Homo sapiens: one gene and its partner. The protein of the gene in region 2 purifies or fractionates together with the protein of the main gene of each other region. This does not show direct contact. Each region holds a gene or a part of one and is shown on either strand. Other genes may lie near its edges. The genes, in order: RDX and MAPK10.

Region 1 (3,825 bases), on a different chromosome or scaffold from region 2:
TATAAAAATTAGTCAGACGTGGTGACCTGTTTGGTGGTGTGCATCTGTAGTCCCAACTACTCGGGACGCTGAGGCAGGTGAATTGCATGAATCCAGGAGGCAGAGGCTGCAATGAGCTGAGATCATGCCACTGCACTCCAGCCTGGGTGACAAAGTGAGACTGTCTCAAAAAAAAAAAAAAAAAAAAAAAAAACAAGGGTCCTTACGTTGCATTAATGCATCCACATTATTCCATGTACTCACCAGGATTTTTTGTTATAAACAAAAATACCCACTCTGGTTAACTTATTAAAAGATTATCAGTCAATTTACAAAAACAACAGGAAGATTTAACAAAGAAAAAAAAACAGAGGAAGCAAGAAACATCCAGAACTCACAGCACAGAATACTGTGCTTAAAATGCTGCTGCAAGGAGTATTAATTAACTTATACACACTACTGTGACACTTAACAGGCCAGGTGTGGTGGCTCACGCCTGTAATCCCAGCACTTTGGGAGGCTGAGGCGGGAGGATCACTTGAACCCAGGACAGCCTGGGCAACATGGTGAGACCCCGTGTCTACAAAAAATAAAAAAGCCGGGAGTGGTGGCAAGCTCCTATAGTTCCAGCTACTTGGGAGACTGAGGTGGAGGGATCACTTCAGCCTGGGAGGTCAAGGTCACAGTGAGCTATAATCAAGCCACCGCACTCTGGCCTGGGCAACAGAGACAGTCTCAAAAAGAAAAAAAAAAAAGCACTTAACACACTTTATGAATACAATATGGCACATCTATCTGCCCATTAGAGTGAGAACTCCTGAGTATTTTACTCATCTTTCCATTCTCAAATGCAAAGAGTATGTGGCATATAATAACTGTCCAAATGTACGACTGACATCTTAAAGCAGTGGTCGGCAAACTTTTTCCGTAAAGGGCCAGGTAAGTAAACATTATAAGCTTTGTAAGCCACACAGTCTCTGTTGAAACCATTCTACTGTTGTAGCAGGAAAGCAGCCATAGATAATATGTAAACAAGTCAGCTACGATGTGTTCAAATAAAACTTTATAAAAACAGGCAGTAGGCTGGGTTTAGCCCATGGACCACAATTTGCCAAGTATTTTAACAAGAATCAACACTTTTCCTTTCATAATTTAACTGAAGTTGGTACCTACAAAGATATGAGCTCACTACATATGACTATCTGTAATGGATCAATTTTGGATATGACTTTGGGTGGGGGTAAAAAAAGGACCGAAGACATGTAATATAGATGAATAATGAAAATAACAGGGCTGGGTGCAGTTGCCTGCACTTTAGGAGGCTGAGGCAGGAGGATCACTTGAGGCCAGAAGTTTGAGACTAGCCTGGGCAACATAGTGAAACTGTATCTCTAAAAAAAATTAAAATCAGCCAAGCATGGTGGTGTGCACATGTAGTCTTAGCTACTCCAGAGGCTGAGGTGGGAGGACTGCCTGAGCCCCGGAGTTCAAAGCCCTGGAGTTCGTGGCATGGAGCTATGATCATGCCACTGTACTCCAGCAGCAGAGAGGTGACAGTGACAGAGAGAAGGAGGGAGACAGGGAAAAAGGGAGGGACGGAGGGAGGAAGGAAAAAGAAAAAAGAAGTATCTATTGGGAACAGAGTTGGAAGAAAGGGCAATTCCATTACCCTTGCCAGTTGACTGGTTAGGTATAGAATGTGCCCCAATCCTGGCCAATGAGGCTCGAAAGACATCTGCTTGGGGGTTTCTGGAAACAGTTCCTCTTATTCCTTTGGATACTGCCCTGTCTGGATGGGATGCAGCAGCCAAACTGGGACAAGGGGCTAACTGCAGGCTTGACCTCCCAGGCTCAAGTGATACCCCAACCTCAGCATTCTGAGTAGCTGGGACTACAGGTCCACACCACCGCTCCTGGCTCCTTTGCAGCAGCCAAATTGAGATGGGTAAGGGCTGTCTTAGTATGAAGTTAATAGGGAAAATCACAGGGAAGAGAGTTGGAAAGAGAAGGAGTCCTTGATGTCATTATTGAACCATTCTTGAGCCTCTGGACTTTTAGTATGCAAGACATTAAATTTTGGCCAGGCATGGTGGCTCACACCTGTAATCCTCCCAGCACTTCAGGAGGCCGAGGCAGAAAGTCCAAGGCAGGAAGTCTGAGGCAGGATGATCATTTGAGACCAGCCTGGGCAACATAGGGATACCCCGTATCTACAAAAAGGCTTTTTAAAAAATTAGTTGTTGGCCAGGCACAGTGGTTCACACCTGTAATCCCAGCACACTGGGAGGCCAAGGCGGGCAGATCACTTGAGGTCAGGAGTTTGAGACCAGCCTGGCCAACATGGTAACACCCTGTCTCTACTAAAAATACAAAAATTAGCCGGGCCTGGTGGCATGTGCCTTAAATCCCAGCTACTAGGGAAGCTGAGGCAGGAGAATCGCTTGAACCCTGGAGGCAGAGGCTGTAGTGAGCTGAGATCATGCCACTGCATTCCAGCCTGGGCAACAGAGCGAGACCCTGTCTTGGAAAAAAAAAAAAAAAATTAGCTAGGCATGGTGGCACACGCCTGTGTTGGCAGCTACTAGGGAGACTGATGTGGGAGGAACTTAAAGGATCACTTGAGCCCAGGAGGTCAAGGCTGCAGTGAGCTGTAATAGTGCCACTGCACTCCAGCTTGGGTGACAGAGGAAGACTCTGTTTTCAAAAAAAAATGAAGAAAAAAATGACATTAAATTTCCTCATTGTTTAAACCAGTTGGAGAATTTTCTGCTATTTGATGCCAATGCATCTTAAAGGATCTAAGGGCTCAAAACTGAAGAGCGCTCACTTCACAAATTTACCTGCAGTCAGTCCTAGTTGACTTAAACTTTTCACAAATAAATTAAAAAAAAAAAACATTTAAGGTCCTGAAAGCCATAGAGATTATCTACAACTCAGAAGAAAACAGTCCATTATCTCAATTACTAATAGCTTTATAAATTCTATAATCTTAGAGAAAATAAACAATGAAGTACCTGTTTCTTCAATACTGTATCTAAAATATCCTTTCAACAGGATGTTTTTTCTAAGGAGTTGGCAAACTTTTTTTGTAAAGAGCAAGATGTGGCTATTTCCCACACCAAATTATAAACCTCCTTTTTTAAAAGACACCATTTCTCATTGTCAACTATATGCCATATGCTAGAAAACAAAAAGTAAACTTCATCTTCAATCATTAATCAAGAAAATCTGTACACAAACAAATTTGCACATACACACACTTGAGAATTAGCGTAGGGAATTCTATTGTGTGCTTTTATTCAAATGATGAAAACATGAGAAATATGATTTACTCAATGTTTAACACAAGTTAATAAGCATCCTTTCAATGTCTGTTACAATATAACCCTATTTTAACAAGACTTTAAAATCACAAATAAGGGATATAAAGTATATGTTTATCCCTGCATACCTACTGGCATTTTCTATAAACAAGGAATTGCCGACAGCAGCTACCTATGGAAAACAGGACTGGGAAAGGGGCTGGGGTGTTCCAGGGAGTAAGGAGGACTTTGACCTTTTCCTTGACATTTTTCTGAGTTTTTAAACTTTGCCATAAAATATATCACTTTTATAGTTTTTTTTAAATGGCTTAAGCTATACATTCAATATAAAGATATACACCAGGAACTTAAAGTAGGAAAGGCAGGATTTCTCTAAAATAGGCTAGAAATTGAGGAACTCTCTGGGGCCAGATTGGACACCTCTATCATCAAAGCAGTACGCACACCCTGGCTGCAGCAATCAAGGAAGTTACCAGAACAGTCTTCAGCTGGATCAGTAATGCCATGAGACTTAAAATAATCT
Region 2 (3,825 bases):
TATTTTTAGTAGAGATGGGGTTTCACCGTGGTAGCCAGGATCGTCTCGACCTCCTGACTTCGTGGTCTGCCTGCCTCGGCCTTCCAAAGTGCTGGGATTGCAGGTGTCAGCCACGACCACGCCCGGCTAACCCCAGCCCTTTCTAAGAGCAGAAAAATGGATAGATTTGATGAGAGAATCTTATGAGAATGGTACATGAATTTGGATGTAAAATCAGTTACAAATTAAAGAGGTCTTTAAAGCAATGAATAAATAAACACAGCCCTGTTAGGCTATTAGGAGGCCATTGGCAATGAGAAAAATTAAATATTGAATTAATGTATAAGTATTTCTGTATTTTTGTTATTCCTGTGCGGTACAGAGTTTTAATTTGAAAGTAATGATAATCAGTTTCTAGGATTGAGTTTCCCAGAAAAATGATTAATAGAAATAAAAAATTCTCAAGTTTAACTAGTGATTTTTCATATTTGTTCAGAAAATTAAAAGATATATTTATTGATGTAATTACCAAGAAAATACTTACAGGTAAAAAATTAATTGCTACATTTTAACTATAGTATGGTTAATATTACGTGAAAAATACATGAACGGCACTAGAAAAAATATGCCAATAATCACAGTCATTGCCTCTAGCTAGTGGGGTTAGATATTATTTCCTGATTTTTGTATTTTATATAATTTTCAAATTTGTAGAATTAGCCAAGTTGTTTTAATCTGAAAAATTGATTAAATAAAAATTGATATGTATCCAGAGTCATCTATGTTGATTTTTTGAAAAATCCATTTAAATTTTGTTATCTTTAATTTGATGTTTTACCATATAGTTAGAATAAACTGAATATTTTCACGGTTCAACTTTCAGATCAGTTGAGTAACAATATTGATTTGAGATATTCATTTCTGTTAAAACTTTATGTAAAAGACTAGGGGAGGGATAGCTTTAGGAGAAATACCTAATGTAGATGACAGGTTGGTGGGTGCAGCAAACCACTATGGCATGTGTATACCTATGTAACAAACCTGCATGTTGTGCACATGTATCCCAGAACTTAAAGTATAATAATTTAAAAAATTTACATATTTTTAGAGGTTAAAATTAATGTGTCTTTTAACAATCTTACTAAATAAATAGCTATCACCATATAATTTTATAACTGTTACTGCCCACAACCATAAAATTAATTATGATAACCTTTACATAATATAGAGTTTCTCATTAGTGTCTGGTGTAGCATTAGACTGGCTTCAGTCTTTAACTACTGGATTTCATCAAGTCATGATTCCATTGATTAAAAATACCTGATGATTACAGAATGTTAAAATAAAATTCAGTAGTTGAATGATATTATTTCTATCACTTCAATTCTTTGATTGTTTTTATGTATATAAGAAATTTGTGGCTGGGAGCAGTGGCTCACTCCTTTAATCCCAGCATTTTGGGAGGCTGAGGTGGGAGGATCTTTGAGCCCAGAGTTCGAGACCAGCTTGGGCAATGTAGGGAGATCTTATCTTTACAAAAAAAAAGAAAGAAAGAAAAAATAGCCAGGCATGGTGGTGCATGCCTGTAGTTCCAGTTACTCGGGAAGCTGGGATGGGAGGATCCTTTGAGCGCAGGAGTTCCAGGCTGCAGTGAGCTGTGATCATTCCACTACACTCCAGCCTGGCAACAGAGGGATACCCTGTCTCAAAAATAAATAAATAAATAAATAAACAAAAACAAAAAGAAAAGAAAAATTTGTATGATACAAACTCTTAAGTCAATTTATATACTAAAATTCTGATAATTCCGTTGTATAAATAAGAATATAGAGACACACGTGTTGATTAACTTCAAACAGCCGTCCACACATTTGTTGAACATCATGCATTTGCACTCTGTGCTCTTTATTCTGTTTATCCTATATTCATGCAGGTTACCAAAGAAGATGACTTTGCTTACATAAACTCTCCAGGTTGATACATTTTACTAAGAAGTTTGCGTGAATAATTATATACCCAAAGTGTTACAACCCTTGGAGAGCCTCAGAATGAAGCCTTAGGCTTAGAGACACAAAGAAACAGGTGTAAAATGCATTTTCTTTTCCATCACATCAAGGGATTTACCTGATGTTTGGAAGGAAGATACTATTCCATACTTTGTTTTCTTAAATTTCCTCTCTGACAAATTTCCTTACTGAAATCAAAATCTTACTAATTGTTTTTCTCATTTATTGTTTCAGCCAGCCAAGCCAGGGACTTGTTGTCAAAGATGCTAGTGATTGACCCAGCAAAAAGAATATCAGTGGACGACGCCTTACAGCATCCCTACATCAACGTCTGGTATGACCCAGCCGAAGTGGAGGCGGTAAGAAATAGGCTGCCTTTACTTTGCTTCCACAAACAAATCATAGCTCATAGCAAAAACTGAATAGGACTAGAAGCCTAAAGAATGCACAATGGATTTTTATAAAATTTCTAAGTCCAAAGCCTATTATCTGCCCCTCTAAAAGCTATTTTCTTCAACATATGTTTTAAATACATTTTTTTCAGGACTTACTAGAAGAGGGTATGATTTAGTCCTACAAACCTTAGATGTCCATGATACACTACCATTTGTTTCTGTTAAATTGCCAATACTTGTGTTTCTTCTTGTGTGTTTGACTGCCAGTCTCTTCTAATGCAAACTTAGTGGTAGGAAACAACAGAGGACAAGTTGCTTAGCTTGTATTTTTTTTTTGAAAAGATACCTGCCACTAGTAAAATGTGATACTTAAGAATATTTCAATTAGAAAGCTTTTATAAGATGATTAAAACGATTGGTGGCTTTGTGAAACCTTGCATGAACTAGATGAACTAGAAGTGGGTATTTCAGTAAGTACATTACTTCAGGTTGATCAGTATGATGTATCTCCATGTCTGATACCCAGACATGGAGAATCTTCTCAGAAGCATAACTCTTTCTATTTTAAAAATATTTTTCAACCATTTACTATCTTCTGTTCAACCTCTTTCTTTCATCTTTACCTCTCTCCTTTCCTCTGTATGGATCCAGGGCTGAGCAGGGCAAGGGGGGCTTGCTGTTGCCCATGTGTGTTCTATAGGCCTCCTGATGAGAATTTCCTTTCTGCACTGCCTTTAAATGTTTCTATCAGGAATGTTACCTTCTCCCTTAAACATGAGAAGCTTCTCAAATTCTTAGAGTACCTGTGCTAAAGCATCTCATATTTTTTTACATAATACCTTCCAATCCATTTGTTTGGATTTGTTCTTAATCTTTCATTTGAAATACTGTTTGTTTCCCCAAAGTATTCTTAAAGATATTTTCACTTTCTTTCAGTTTTCTTTCCTCTGCTTCACCATGTGTTTTTCCATGTCAGAGGTGCTAGATTCAAACACATAATTCTCATTTCTTCATTCTTCACTAGAGAAGATACGAAAGAAAGTGAGAACTAGGTAGAATTGAACTTTACAGACACAATATTAAACAGGTCCTTTTCATAATGTAACCCAATCTTTAAGCATTTAAAAACTTCAGAGAAAACACTTAAGTGATTAATGAATCTCCCAAGTGTGAAGACTGCACTACATTTTGTTTAAGATCTGCTCTCTTAGTTTTACAATGATGTTGAGATTTCATGTTGCCTCAAGTTAATTTTTAGTCATTTTATTTGATTCTTACCAAATAATATCCCTACAATTAAATATTTCTGAGTTTAATTATAATGTTCTAAAAATTAATATATATTCTTACAACCAAAATATAGAACCTCTTCCAGTCTCCCACACTTGGGAAATACTTGCACAGATGTTCTTGGGATGGAATGAAGTAGTGAAGTAAGTGAGAGA

Evidence for each region.
Region 1: the proteins of MAPK10 (region 2) and RDX purify together in Homo sapiens (affinity purification with mass spectrometry; one large-scale study listed by BioGRID and IntAct). This does not show direct contact.

What each region holds. Positions count from the first base shown.
Region 1 is NC_000011.10:110,289,790-110,293,614, forward strand, and holds part of RDX (radixin), read right to left. Parts: intron 1-3,825. UniProt on the Homo sapiens protein: Probably plays a crucial role in the binding of the barbed end of actin filaments to the plasma membrane.
Region 2 is NC_000004.12:86,062,785-86,066,609, reverse strand, and holds part of MAPK10 (mitogen-activated protein kinase 10), read left to right. Parts: intron 1-2,219; coding exon 2,220-2,344; intron 2,345-3,825. UniProt on the Homo sapiens protein: Serine/threonine-protein kinase involved in various processes such as neuronal proliferation, differentiation, migration and programmed cell death.